Homo sapiens: one gene and its partners. The protein of the gene in region 4 interacts with the protein of the main gene of each other region in a pairwise test. Each region holds a gene or a part of one and is shown on either strand. Other genes may lie near its edges.

Region 1 (3,500 bases), on a different chromosome or scaffold from region 4:
AGCTCACCTGTAATCACTAGTCCTGTGTGGCAGGCAGACTTCTGAGAGGGCCCCCAGAGGCTCAGCTCACCTGTAATCACTAACCCTGTGTGGTAGGCAGGCTTCTGAGAGGGCCCCCAGATTCCAGGCTCCTTGTGCACACTCACCTTCCTACTGCCTCCCAGGTTTCAGTCCAATACTGAGTAGGTTTCATTGCTGTGGGATTGTGCAGATGTAATTAAGGTCTAAGATCTGTTGACCTTGAGATAGGGAGATTACGTGGGTGGGCTTGATCCACTCCCTGGTGGGCTTGATGTACTCACCTGAGCCCTTTAAGTCTGAGTCCAGACGTCCGAGGCCGAGCAGTCAAGAGACATAGCAGGAGAGGGATTTGATGAGGGAGATTGGACGTGGTTGACTTTGGAGATGGAGAGGGCCGTGTGGCAAGGGATGTGGGCAGCACCTAGGAGTTGATGGCTGTACTGGGCTGGCAGCCAGTCGGGAAGGAGACCTCATTCTCCATCTCTGAGCTCCACGTGAGAACATGTCCTGGCCGACTGCATTGATTTTTAGTCTGGGAGACCCTGGTCAGAGAATGCAGCCACCTACGTCTGGACTTCCGACCCACGGAGCCGTTGGCTGGTAAATAAATGGGTGGCATTCGAGGCCGTTGCCTTCACTAATATGCTTAATGTCATCTCAAAAGACGTCTTCCTCTTCCCAGGCTTTTTCACCTTCCCGTTTCCTGCCCCTCCCCTGTTCCCCAGCCTGGAGCCCAGTGGCTGGGCCACATCAAGACTTAGCACGGGACCTGCGGGAATGGGTCCTCAGGGAGTGTGTCTGCTGCACTGAGTCACTCACCTGGTTTGATGCCGTCACTGAGGATTCTGTTTTTCTTTGGGTGCGACCTGCTCAGCTGGAGGAAAGAGCAGAGCAGATCCGTTCGAAGTCCCACCTCATCCAGGTGGAGCGGGAGAAAATGCAGATGGAGCTGAGTCACAAGAGGGCTCGAGTGGAGCTGGAGAGAGCAGCCAGCACCAGTGCCAGGAACTACGAGGTGGGTTCAGGCGGGGCGAGGGTCGGCCCAGACAGCCCCAGGAAGCAAGGGGGCTGTGCACGGTACCTGCCAGGTTATAAGAAATCACATCCTAGTCCCTGGGAGCAAGGGGGCTGTGCATGGTACCTGCCAGGTCTTAAGAAATCAGATCCCAGTCCCTGGGAGCAAGGGGGCTGTGCACGGTACCTGCCAGGCCGTAGGAAATGAGAACCCAGCTGGCTGGAAGCCTGACACGCCCTGTGTCATGGTTGCCAGGACATTCCTTCTGAGGCCACTCATGCTGTGGGGCAGGTATCAGTTATGCTTGATGTCCTAGAGGAGGGTGGCATGAAATGGGAACACTTGCTGTGTCTGTTCATTGAGGCTGCGGTGCTGGCACAGATTCTTTTGCTGGGTCTCCTGGTTTCCTCTTCCCTCTGGAAGAATTGGAATGCAGGTCTGGCAGAAATGCCAAGTGGTGTAGGAGTGACAGGCTTAGGAGGTCATGGGGTGGATCAGGGTCTCGGGTCCATGCTGGGTCTTGGGGTTGGAGGGCCCTAGCAAAGGGTGCCGGTCTCAATGGCGGCTCTGTGTTGCTCCTGGCTCCCCAGGGCAGCAGGGAAAACACCCTGTCCTTGGGGAGGGAATTAGGTTTCCACTGAGTGCGCGGATCCCCTCTGCTCTGATTAACAGCACTTTGCCAGGGTTTCAGTCAGTGCTGATCAGTTGTGGAAATGCTGCCAAGGTTCAGGCAGAGTATTGGGCGGAAAGTCTCCCTGGCCTCCGTGCCCTCTCTTGGCGGGTGGATGTCCAGCCCCGCCCTGACATCATGCGGTGTATTCACACACTCTCCTGGGCCCTAGAAAAATAGCTCACGTCTTCCGGGGTGTGATGCTGGTTGGATTGCTTGCCCCTGGCCTGCAGATCCTGACTGCGGTGTGCGTTGTGTGGGCTCAGTGAGACTGAGGCACCGCTGGGGTGGGGGCCACTGCCTCAGGGTTGGCTCCGTTGCTGCTTTGAGAGCTGTTTTCCCTGAGAGGTGGGGCGTTTGCTCATGGCCTGGGTGGGTCCTAGGAGGGACAGTACTGGAGGAATTGGTGGGAAGGGGAGGGAGAGTCCACAGGAGTCTCCCTAACTACTGAGATTCCCTTGTTAGGGGTGGAGAGGAGCCACCAGGTCATTGGTCTGGAGGCAGCATGCTGATGGTATGGCTGTGGCTGTCAGGCAGGAGGGACAGTGTGCAGCTGTTGGAGTTCCTCTAGGCCGAGAGTCCCTGAGGGCAGGGCCCACCCGACTCTGCCCAGGATCTCCATTGTGTGGCACAGCTTATGGCATTTTATGGGTGCTCACAAATGTTGGATTGAGGGAGGGGTCATTGTAGGGTCTCCGGGAACCCTGTCTTGGGGAAATCCAAGGATGCAGGTGACTGGGCTTACACCTGGGGCTCCCTGCTGAGCTCCAGCCACCTTCTAACAGGACTGTCCTTCCTTGCCCGCAGACACAGCTGCATGGGACCCCAGGAACAGTCAGAACCAGTAGTTTTCCAATTGTTCCTTGGAGTTCCACCTGGAAATACCTATTAGGGGCGAGACTTAAGTGTCTGAAGTCCAAAGACCTGCTGGCTGCCCTGTCTGCGCTGGGACTGGCAGTTCCAGGCCCGGTGCCGCATCTGGCTGTGATGGTGCTGAGCGGAGCCCCGTGCCAACCCCAGTTCTTGTCCTGCATCACAGAAGGGTCTCTTGGTTGTTGTGAGGCAGCCCTTGCAGCTCACAAGGGCTGGAGTCCCTCCGAGGTGCGCGGGTCAGCCTCTCTCAGAAGGCGGCCACCTCTGTCACAGCTCTCCTGGGTTTTGGGCTGGAGTACCCTGGATGAGGACAGCACAAGCTCGTACTCCACCCGGGGCTCCGGGAGTGCTTGGTGCTTCCCGAGGAAGGCAGGGTGAGAGGGTCCCGGAGTGCCGGGCTCCACCAGGACTCACCGCCTTCACCTCCTGGGACGCCGGTACCTGGCAGTGAACTCTGGAGGGCCTGCGGGTCATTAGAGTCAGGAGGTCTGAGCGTGGTGCTTGGTCATGTCCCATCCCAACCAGTGAGAGCCACGCGGCCTCCCTAAGGCCAGTCGTGGGGGGTGGGTCTGGAGGTTTGTGGTTTGTGTGAGAGGGGGTGCATGTGTGGCAGATTTGAGCCCAGTGTAAACTGCTTCTGCCCACAGCCTCCTGTCCACGCTGCCTGTCTCTGCCCCTGTTGTCTGCTCGCTGGGGGAGTGCCAGCTCCTTTCAGTGCCGGACAGAGCGTAATTAGACAGGATTTGCTGGTGCTATGAAAGCTCAGCTTCTCCCCAAGGTCAATGCTGAATTTTAGATTTCCCATGCCCCCTCTCCCTGCAGAGGCAACTGCTGAGCAGACGGTGTGATAAATGTGTGTGTGATCTGTGCCAAGTGCCCTTCCTGGGAGCCCTGACCTCGCACAGTGCTCACCGTCATGGT
Region 2 (3,500 bases), on a different chromosome or scaffold from region 4:
AATTATGCAGGAAGACTTAGAAATAAAATGTGTTCTTTGGGTAATCACATTCTGCTTTTCAAGAAATTCCCTAGCAGCCATACTGATTATTTTATTTTATTTTATTTTTGACAAAAATTATAATATTACCAGAAGAGATTTAGCTTAGGGAGTTTAAAGACCTGTCCTTACTAGTTTTTTGACTTTGTTAAAATCTCTGAGCTTTTGTTTCTTTACAGTAAAATGTAATAATGGTAGCTGCTATATTTTCCTCATGAGATTGCTTAAGGTTCAATTGAGATGATATAATTAAAATCATATTGCATTTTGGAAATGTGGCATTATCATTTGCTAATCGCAGCATAATTGCAAGATTGATAAGGTGATGTTTGTCTGTGCAGCGGTTTAAAAATTCTATTGGGGAAGATTTCCACATATTTGAGATTTACTGGATTGGACTGTTCAGCCACTTTCTAGAGAAACCAATTTGTTTTCCAGGTTCCTGATCATAGCCCAGTCTGTAGCCCAATAATTAGTCAGATTGTATTTTCAGTTAGTTGCTTTTTTTTTTTTTTCTTTTTTTGTTGATACAGAGTCTCACTCCATCGCCCAGGCTGGAGTGCAGTGGTGCAATCTCGGCTCACTGCAACCTCTGCCTCCAGGGTTCAAGCGATTCTCCTGCCTCAGCCTCCTGAGTAGCTGGGATTACAGGTGCATGCTACCACGCCCGGCTAATTTTTGTATTTTTATTAGAGACGGGGTTTCACCATGTTGGTCAGGCTGGTGTCAAACTCTTGACCTCATGATCTGCCTGCTTTGGCCTCCCAAAGTGCTGGGATTACAGGTGTGAGCCACTGTGCCCGGCCAGTTAGTTACTTTTCTGTAATGTAAAGTTATTTTTAGTAACTTATTTTTATTTCCTTTTTAAAAATTCTAGATTCAGGAGGAATCAGATATGTGGAAAATAAGAGAACTGGAAAAACAGATGGAAGATGCTTACCGGGGGACCAAAAGGAAAATGCTACCCAGCAGTTCAAGGTGAAGTTGCAGCTCTGAGAACTAAAATAATTCTCATCTTTTTCAGAATCATCAACTTTTGTTTAAAAATACTTTGGTATATTAAGGATAAATTCAGTTCTGTGAGTCCTTAAGCCTTCCTTCTTTCGTAAATCTAGACCCAGGCATAAAGATAATGGCTGTGACGCATATGGCCCTGCTCTTTGTACTTATTTACAATGGAGAGTTAAAAAATTCTACCTGAACAATTATGAATGTGTAGGGTTCTGTGGATTCTAACCTTACCTGATAGCTTTTAACTGAAGATTTTATACTGGAATCTTGTGGTCACTAAGCTGATCAGTCATTCTATTCTCTATTAATCTTTCATTCTTTCAGGCTTTTCTTTTTGTAGCTGGAACTGCAGGTGCATGCCACTATGCCTAGCTACTTTTTTTTTGTAGAGGTGGTGTCTTGCTGTGTTCCCCAGGCTGGTATAGAATCCTGGGCTCACGCAGTCCTCCCACCTCAACCTCCCAGTGTTGGGATTATAAGCATGAGCCACTTGCCTGGCCTCAGACTTTTCTTCACCCTGTCTATTCACCCTCTTCACCAGATCAACAGCCTTTTCACATTACCTTAATAGCTTGAGTGTAAATATGAAGGATTATGCAGGCTTAGTTATCTTCCTTGTGGAGAGGCCTAGGAATGCTTGAATAATTGGGAAGATCCTTACACGCTTGTAAGTGTAAGAGCTACATATATAAGAAATACTTAAACTCTTTAGGAGCAGGGCTTGTGATTTTCTCATTTGCTGCTATATTCCTGCCAGCTAGACCAGTACCTGGTACATAGGAGGCCCTTACAATTTTTTTTTTTTTTTTTTTTTGAGATGGAGTTTCGCTTTTGTTACCCAGGCTGGAGTGCAATGGTGTGGTCTTGGCTCACTGCAACCTCCGCCTCCTGGATTCAGCCAATTCTTCTGCCTCAGCCTCCCAATCAGCTGGGATTACAGGCACCTGCCACCACGCCTGGCTAATTTTTGTATTTTTAGTAGAGACAGGGTTTCACCATGTTGGCCAGGCTGGTCTTGAACTCCTGAGCTCAAAGTGATCCACCCACCTCGGCCTCCCAAAGTGCTGGGATTACAGGCGTGAGCCACTGGACCTGGCCCCTTAAAAATTTTTGATAACCGATTAGCAGCTTACTGGCTAGTTAGTAGAAATGGTAAACAGAAGCTGGATCAGTGGTTCTCAACTTTTTTCCTACTCCAGTATTCCCATGGGTTAGACCTTGTTCCCACTGTTATTGGGACCTCTCTATAGTAAGTTGCTGGTTTGCACAGAGGGAAGTGTATTTCAGAATCTCTAGGGTAGTTTGAAGTGTCCCTTGCTATGATTATGTTCTGCTTCCCTCTTTGCATGCCCTCCTAGTTGAGAATCAGCGAGTGAACTATCACATGACATAGTCCAGAGTTGATTTCATCTCTCTATGCTTTGCAATAGGATGGGTACTAATGGTCAGATTTTTTTCTTTTTTTCTTTTTTTTTTTTCCTGAGACGGAGTCTCACTCTGTTGCCCAGGCTGGAGTACAATGGCATGATCTGGGCTCACTGCAACCTCTGCCTCCCCGGGTTCAGGCAATTTTCCTGCCTCAGCCTTCCAAGTAGCTGGGACTATAGGCGTGTGCCACCACACCTAACTACTTTTTTTGTATTTTTAGCAGAGACAGGGTTTCACCATGTCCCCCAGGCTGGTCTTGAACTCCTGACCCCAAGTGATCCACTCGCCCCGGCCTCCCAAAGTGCTGGGATTACAGGCATGAGCCACTGCACCTGGCCTGGTCAGATTTTTTTCCACTGGACTTTACAAATGTACAGAGGAACAGATAATCAAAGTGCTGGGATTACAGGCATGAGCTACTGCACTAGGCCTGGTCAGATTTCTTCCACTGGACTTCACAAATGTATAGAGAGGAGCAGATAATGTCTTTGCCTTTTTTTTTTTTTTTTTTAAACAGTATCATGTTGTTTCCTTCCCCCTCAGCTTGTTCCATGAGTTTTGTGCATGATGTTCCATAAAGTAAACTCACAGATTGCTTTTACATCTAAAAGTTCTTCTGCTTTCTCTTTTAGCCGGATGCGCAGTGATGGTTTTGATGAAGAAAGTCAAAGATACTATTGGAGGCCAAAGAATGAAATTTCTGGGACACTGGAAGATGATTTTCTTAAGGCTAAATCCTGGAATAAAAAGTTCTATGATTATGAAGCAAACATGCCAGACAGGTTTGTGATTAATTCCTGTGAGCATTAATATTTGGCCTGAGAACGTGTACTTATCAAAATTAATTGTCCCCACAAAAAACTTGTGTACAAAAGTTCATACCAGCATTATTAATAATGGCCCCAAAAAATAATGGCCAAGTAATCCAAATGTCTGTCAACTGATGAATGGGTAAACAAAATGCGATATATCCATACAATGGAATATTATTTGGCAGTAAAAGAAATGAAGTACAGATACAT
Region 3 (2,461 bases), on a different chromosome or scaffold from region 4:
ACTCTTAGAGGCAGAGTAAACAGTATATGCCATAGTATTTTAAAACTGTTTTATATGTGTTCCCACAAAGACAAGAGCCTGGAAAAAATACAACATCCTGCAAAGAAATGGCTTATTTTGTAAATAAGCCATAAAGTATTTCAGTCCTCATATATCTTTGACTAGTTAACTTATTTGATCAAACTAGAACAATGTTTACTTATAGTTCTACAGTGATTAATAAAAACACACTTTTTCTATGCTGAGCCAAACATTATACTGAAACTCAGTCCAGTTACTCAAAAATTGGTTCTAAGTGGGGTCCATAGTGTTGACAGGCTATAGTTTAGGTATGAGTGGATTGTGTTAAGTCCATCACAGCTGAGAAATAAACCTCAAATATACATTTTCAAAATGTTGGGTCGGAGTTCTAGATTATCCTTTATGTTTTAATTGAAATAAGGTAGAGTCATGGGCTTACTGGTTTTGTTTTTGATTTTTTAGGTACAGCCCAAGCACCTTGGGTGTGTTGGACTGAGCTGCTTTTATTTGGCTGTAAAATCAATAGAAGAGGAAAGGAATGTCCCATTGGCAACTGACTTGATCCGAATAAGTCAATATAGGTTTACGGTTTCAGACTTGATGAGAATGGAAAAGATTGTATTGGAGAAGGTGTGTTGGAAAGTCAAAGCTACTACTGCCTTTCAATTTCTGCAACTGTATTATTCACTCCTTCAAGAGAACTTGCCACTTGAAAGGTAAGTGACCTTTGTTTTGAACAAGAGACATTTGGAAATCAGAATGGTATTGTATGGATATTGCATAAAATCAGTATCCTCATAGAATTCTAATAAAAATAAGTAAAATGACAGCTGTGGCTCCTTGAACTTTAATGTCCATCATAAGTGAGAAAATGTTCCATTGTCAATAGCTTCGTTAAAGCTAATTCTTGGGATTAAAGTACATTTTGACTTTATAGAACCTAGTAGGAAAGCATCTAACACAAATTTATGGAAAAAAAGGACCTTCAGTGGATGTTGAAATATTTATTAAAACTAAAAGAAAATAAATCTTGTATTTGTGGCATAGTACTATTCATTTTAATTTTTTGGCCCAAATCATCTAAAACTCCCATATGGTGCCTTTAGAAGTTAGTATCTCTGATGGAAGGGGAATTCCTTTCAATAGTTCATTTGCTATGTTAAGTGTGCATAAGCTTTACTTTAAAAATTGACTTCAATGTTTTTCTAAAAACATCTTTTGACTAGATGTAGTATTACCTAATAAAAGTAATACCATTTTCTTTTTAAAGGAGAAATAGCATTAATTTTGAAAGACTAGAAGCTCAACTGAAGGCATGTCATTGCAGGATCATATTTTCTAAAGCAAAGGTAAATATTTTATAAAGATTATGCCTATTGATATGATCTGTTTTTATATTTGGCATTTACTTTAAATTTATCTCTTTTAGCCTTCTGTGTTGGCATTGTCTATCATTGCATTAGAGATCCAAGCACAGAAGTGTGTAGAGTTAACAGAAGGAATAGAATGTCTTCAGAAACATTCCAAGGTATGTGAAGGACATAGCCTAAATCCTATTAACAGCTGTAAAAGAAACTAAACCCCTTCTATCTCCTGAAGTAAAATGAGATGTCATATGTTTATTTGAAACTTAAGTAGCTATCCTCAAATGTTTTTAATGAGCAAAGACACATGTTCATAGGATTGCATTTATTAATGTAGTTAAATAAGGTGGGACTTACTTGGAGTAATAATTTTTTAAAATTTATGTATGTACAGATAAATGGCAGAGATCTGACCTTCTGGCAAGAGCTTGTATCCAAATGTTTAACTGAATATTCATCAAATAAGTGTTCCAAACCAAATGTTCAGAAGTTGAAATGGATTGTTTCTGGGCGTACTGCACGGCAATTGAAGCATAGCTACTACAGAATAACTCACCTTCCAACAATTCCTGAAATGGTCCCTTAACTGGTAAATTTGGTCCGTTATTATTCTCCAGATAGAGAACATTTTCCAATGCCATAATTTTCAACTAAAGAAGAGTAATTATCTTCAAAATAAACAAAATGGAGTTGGAATAGTAAAGGGGGAGATGACATCACTGATCTAGTCAGCTAATATTTGAAGGCCTTTACTATATACAAGGTACAACATCTTAGGAGTAAGGAATTATCCAACCTCTGATACATACGTTAGCCATTTCATTAAATTTTCAGCTTAGAGAACAGCATCCTCCTTGTAGCACTAAAATCATGCTTTTTTTTAATTGCACATGATCTTGCTGTATGTATCTGACTGATTTAAAATTACATAAGCTGAGCAGGACAACAGCACCAAAAGTCTGAACCAAGTATGAACTAATTTGAGACTGTTAGCTTATAAGCAAAATCAATATGAACTTGGATATTGTACTTAAAAGAAAAAAAAGTAGGCCGGATGCAGTGGCTCACGCCTGTAA
Region 4 (2,890 bases):
GGTGCCCCTGAGGGAGGGCAGGGCACAGCCGTACCTTACAGACCTGGGCCAGCTCATACTGCAGGTCCTTGATGGTGCTGTTCTTCGACTCAAGAACATCCTGAGGAGAGAGAGGTGATGGGAGTTTGAGACTCATCTTTTGGCCGAGGCAACGGGAGCGGCCTGGGGACTCCAGTGGGCGTTCTGAGAGATCCAGCGAATAGCAGCCTGGTTTGATGGATGCATCCATCCACACAGGGTTGTCAGCAGAAAAAGGTCTCCAAGGGTGGAGAGAAAACAAGGAAGAAGCAGAGAACTGGGAGCTTGCACAACCTGCCTCTCCAGCAACAGTCCAGGCCAGGCACTGCCGCTCACACCTGTGATCCCAGCAGTGTGGGAGGCCAAGGAGGGCAGATCACTTGAGGTCAGGAGTTTGAGACCAGCCTGGCCAACGTGGCGAAACCCCGTCTCTACTATACGAAAAGTAGCCGGGCACGGTGGCTCACACCTGTGTAATCCCAGCTACTCAGGAGGCTGAGGCATGAGAATTGCTTGAACCTGGGAAACGGAGGTTGCAGTGCGCCGAGATTGAGCCACTGCACTCCAGTCTGGGTGACAGAGCAAGACACCGTCTCAAGAAAAAACTCAAAGAGCAGTCCAGACCACAAGAAATGCAGATGAGGTGAGGGCAGGCAGCGTGCAGCCACACTGTGGAGACTGGTCACTAAACACCACCTACATATTGCTTAAATTTCTTGAGGCTTGTGAATGTACTATCTCACTTTTTTTTCTGAGATGGAGTCTCGCCCCGTTGCCCAGGCTGGAGTGCAGTGGCGCGATCTAGGCTCACCGCAACCTCCGCCTCCCAGGTGCCAGGAATTCTCTGCCTCAGCCTCCCAAATAGCTGGGATTACACCCGCCACCAAGCCCAGCTAATTTTTGTATTTTTAGTAGAGACGGGGTTTCACCATCTTGGCCAGGCTGGTCTTGAACTCCCAAACTCGTGATCTGCCCACCTCAGCCTCCCAAAGTGCTGGGATTACAGGCGTGAGCCACCGCGCCCGGCTATCCCACTTTTTTGTAACAGAAAAAAGTAGTCTTCAGCAGCGCTGGCCCCGCCCAGATGTGGGCAAGGGTCTCACCACGTGGCGAGGCAGGGACTTCTTGGGCTCCTGCCTGTGGGGCACTGCTGGGCCCAGCCTGGCTTTAGAGCCGTCCCTGCTGCCCACTGACACAGCAGCCCCCTCACACCTGGCCAGCAGCAAACAGTGTCCCTGCGGGGGCCTCTGTCATTTCCCCAGAAGATTCCTCACTTAGAAGTCGAGGTAACAATGACCAGGAAAGGAGGGGTTGACCCACATTTAGCTCCATCCTCCATCCTCACCCTGGCGCGTGGGCGCAGCTGCAATGACCCTCACAGGCCACGACTGCTCTCTTCACCCTCATTTCGGTGGCTTAGCAGCAGGCTGGGTGCAGCCCTCAGCCAGGAGCTGGAAACACGCCTCCCCCACCTCCCAACAGTGGGACCCTCACTCCCTCACCTGCCTGTGCTCACTGGGCCCAGTGCTGAGCAAACAAAGATGAGTTTTCAGTCCCGGGGCCACAGTGCCTCTGGCCCAGGTGAGGCCCCTCCTATACAGCCTCACTACCTCAGGCCCTGAGAGCCAGGCCATCCCAGATGACCAGGGTCCCACAGGCACCACCGCCCACTGGGCCGGGACCCGTCGTTCCCCCATGTGCAAACACCAAGTCACCTCGGCCCCTCCCAGCCCCACCTGTGGACTCAGCCTCCTGGCGGCTCTCCAACCCTCTGCCCGTCCCCATTCTGTGCTGGCCCCAACCAGCCCCCTCCAGCCCTGTGCTCCCCATCAATAGCAGAGTGGGCCCTGATCTGGTTCCCCTGCCCAGCCCTTCCACAGTTCCCAACTGGCCCGAAACTGGCCACAGGAAACCCATGAATGCCCCTCCTCAGTGGCCGACCGAGGGGTCTCTGTGCCTATCCGAGGAGCAGCACAGAACTGAAGACTCTTGCCACAGGGATGAGGCCGCCCACTGGGGTCAGGAGCCTGTCTAGGGCCTACCTCCAGCTTGCGGGACACCAGCGTCAGGGCTGCAGGGTCCAGGTTAGAGGCAGCCAGGACCTCGTTGAACTGCACCTCCTTCTTCTCCACAGCGGCGCTCAGAGCCTGCAGCTTGCGTTCTAGCACGAGGTTCTTGAACCCTGTCTTCTGCTGCACCTCCTGGATGGCTGCGGTGAACTTCCGATAGAGCTCGTCCCGCTCCTGCTGCACCTGTAGGGACAGCGCTGGGGGTGGGCGATGAGGCCCCTCACCTGGGGACATCTCGCTGGGAAGATGCTGCCTCCCACCTCTGCACCTGCCTGGAACACGCTGCCTCCCAACAGTGCCCACTCCCACAGCACCGGGGTCAGTGTGTTGTCCACACTGCCTGCGCCCTGGCCCTTTGTAGAGCCATCCACGCAGTGGAAGGCAGGAGGAACACATCAGCATAAGCCCTTCTCTCAGGAAGGTGTCTCTGGAAGCCATAAGTGTCCTGGTAAGAGCTGAAGCAGCCCCACCCTGAAAGCTGCTTCATGGGTGGCCGAGGCCAGTCTTGCCCGAGTGAGGGCTGTGGGCTCAGGTGAGATTTGAGATCCAGGGCATCCAGCAGGCCGAGCTTGCAGGTGGGGCCCCTTGGAGGATATGCTCCCTTGGCCAGCCCCAGATCCTGGCATCACATGTGCTGTCCGCCCCACAAATGGTGGATCTGGAGCACGGCCTTGGAGCCAGCTACCTGCCAGCCAGTAAAACTGTTCTTTTTTATCTCCTAATTCTTCTACTTATTAATTGTGCATTCTAAAAAAATCTAGACTTTGTTGAAGACTATAAAAAAGTGAACACCCTGAGCAGCG

Evidence for each region. Proteins that work in one complex are often made in the same cells at the same time.
Region 1: the proteins of DRC4 (region 4) and MAD1L1 interact in binary tests that used the Homo sapiens proteins (3 or more experiments, as listed by UniProt).
Region 2: the proteins of DRC4 (region 4) and NKAPD1 interact in binary tests that used the Homo sapiens proteins (3 or more experiments, as listed by UniProt).
Region 3: the proteins of DRC4 (region 4) and CCNG1 interact in binary tests that used the Homo sapiens proteins (3 or more experiments, as listed by UniProt).

What each region holds. Positions count from the first base shown.
Region 1 is NC_000007.14:2,222,946-2,226,445, reverse strand, and holds part of MAD1L1 (mitotic spindle assembly checkpoint protein MAD1), read left to right. Parts: intron 1-895; coding exon 896-1,036; intron 1,037-3,500. UniProt on the Homo sapiens protein: Component of the spindle-assembly checkpoint that prevents the onset of anaphase until all chromosomes are properly aligned at the metaphase plate.
Region 2 is NC_000011.10:112,077,299-112,080,798, forward strand, and holds part of NKAPD1 (uncharacterized protein NKAPD1), read left to right. Parts: intron 1-916; coding exon 917-1,017; intron 1,018-3,110; coding exon 3,111-3,260; intron 3,261-3,500.
Region 3 is NC_000005.10:163,440,595-163,443,055, forward strand, and holds part of CCNG1 (cyclin-G1), read left to right. Parts: intron 1-483; coding exon 484-737; intron 738-1,291; coding exon 1,292-1,370; intron 1,371-1,450; coding exon 1,451-1,549; intron 1,550-1,779; coding exon 1,780-1,971; coding exon of another isoform or gene 1,972-1,974; intron 1,975-2,461. UniProt on the Homo sapiens protein: May play a role in growth regulation. Is associated with G2/M phase arrest in response to DNA damage. May be an intermediate by which p53 mediates its role as an inhibitor of cellular proliferation.
Region 4 is NC_000016.10:90,039,680-90,042,569, reverse strand, and holds part of DRC4 (dynein regulatory complex subunit 4), read right to left. Parts: intron 2,810-2,890; exon of another isoform or gene 2,271-2,809; coding exon 2,061-2,270; intron 101-2,060; coding exon 35-100; intron 1-34. UniProt on the Homo sapiens protein: Component of the nexin-dynein regulatory complex (N-DRC), a key regulator of ciliary/flagellar motility which maintains the alignment and integrity of the distal axoneme and regulates microtubule sliding in motile axonemes.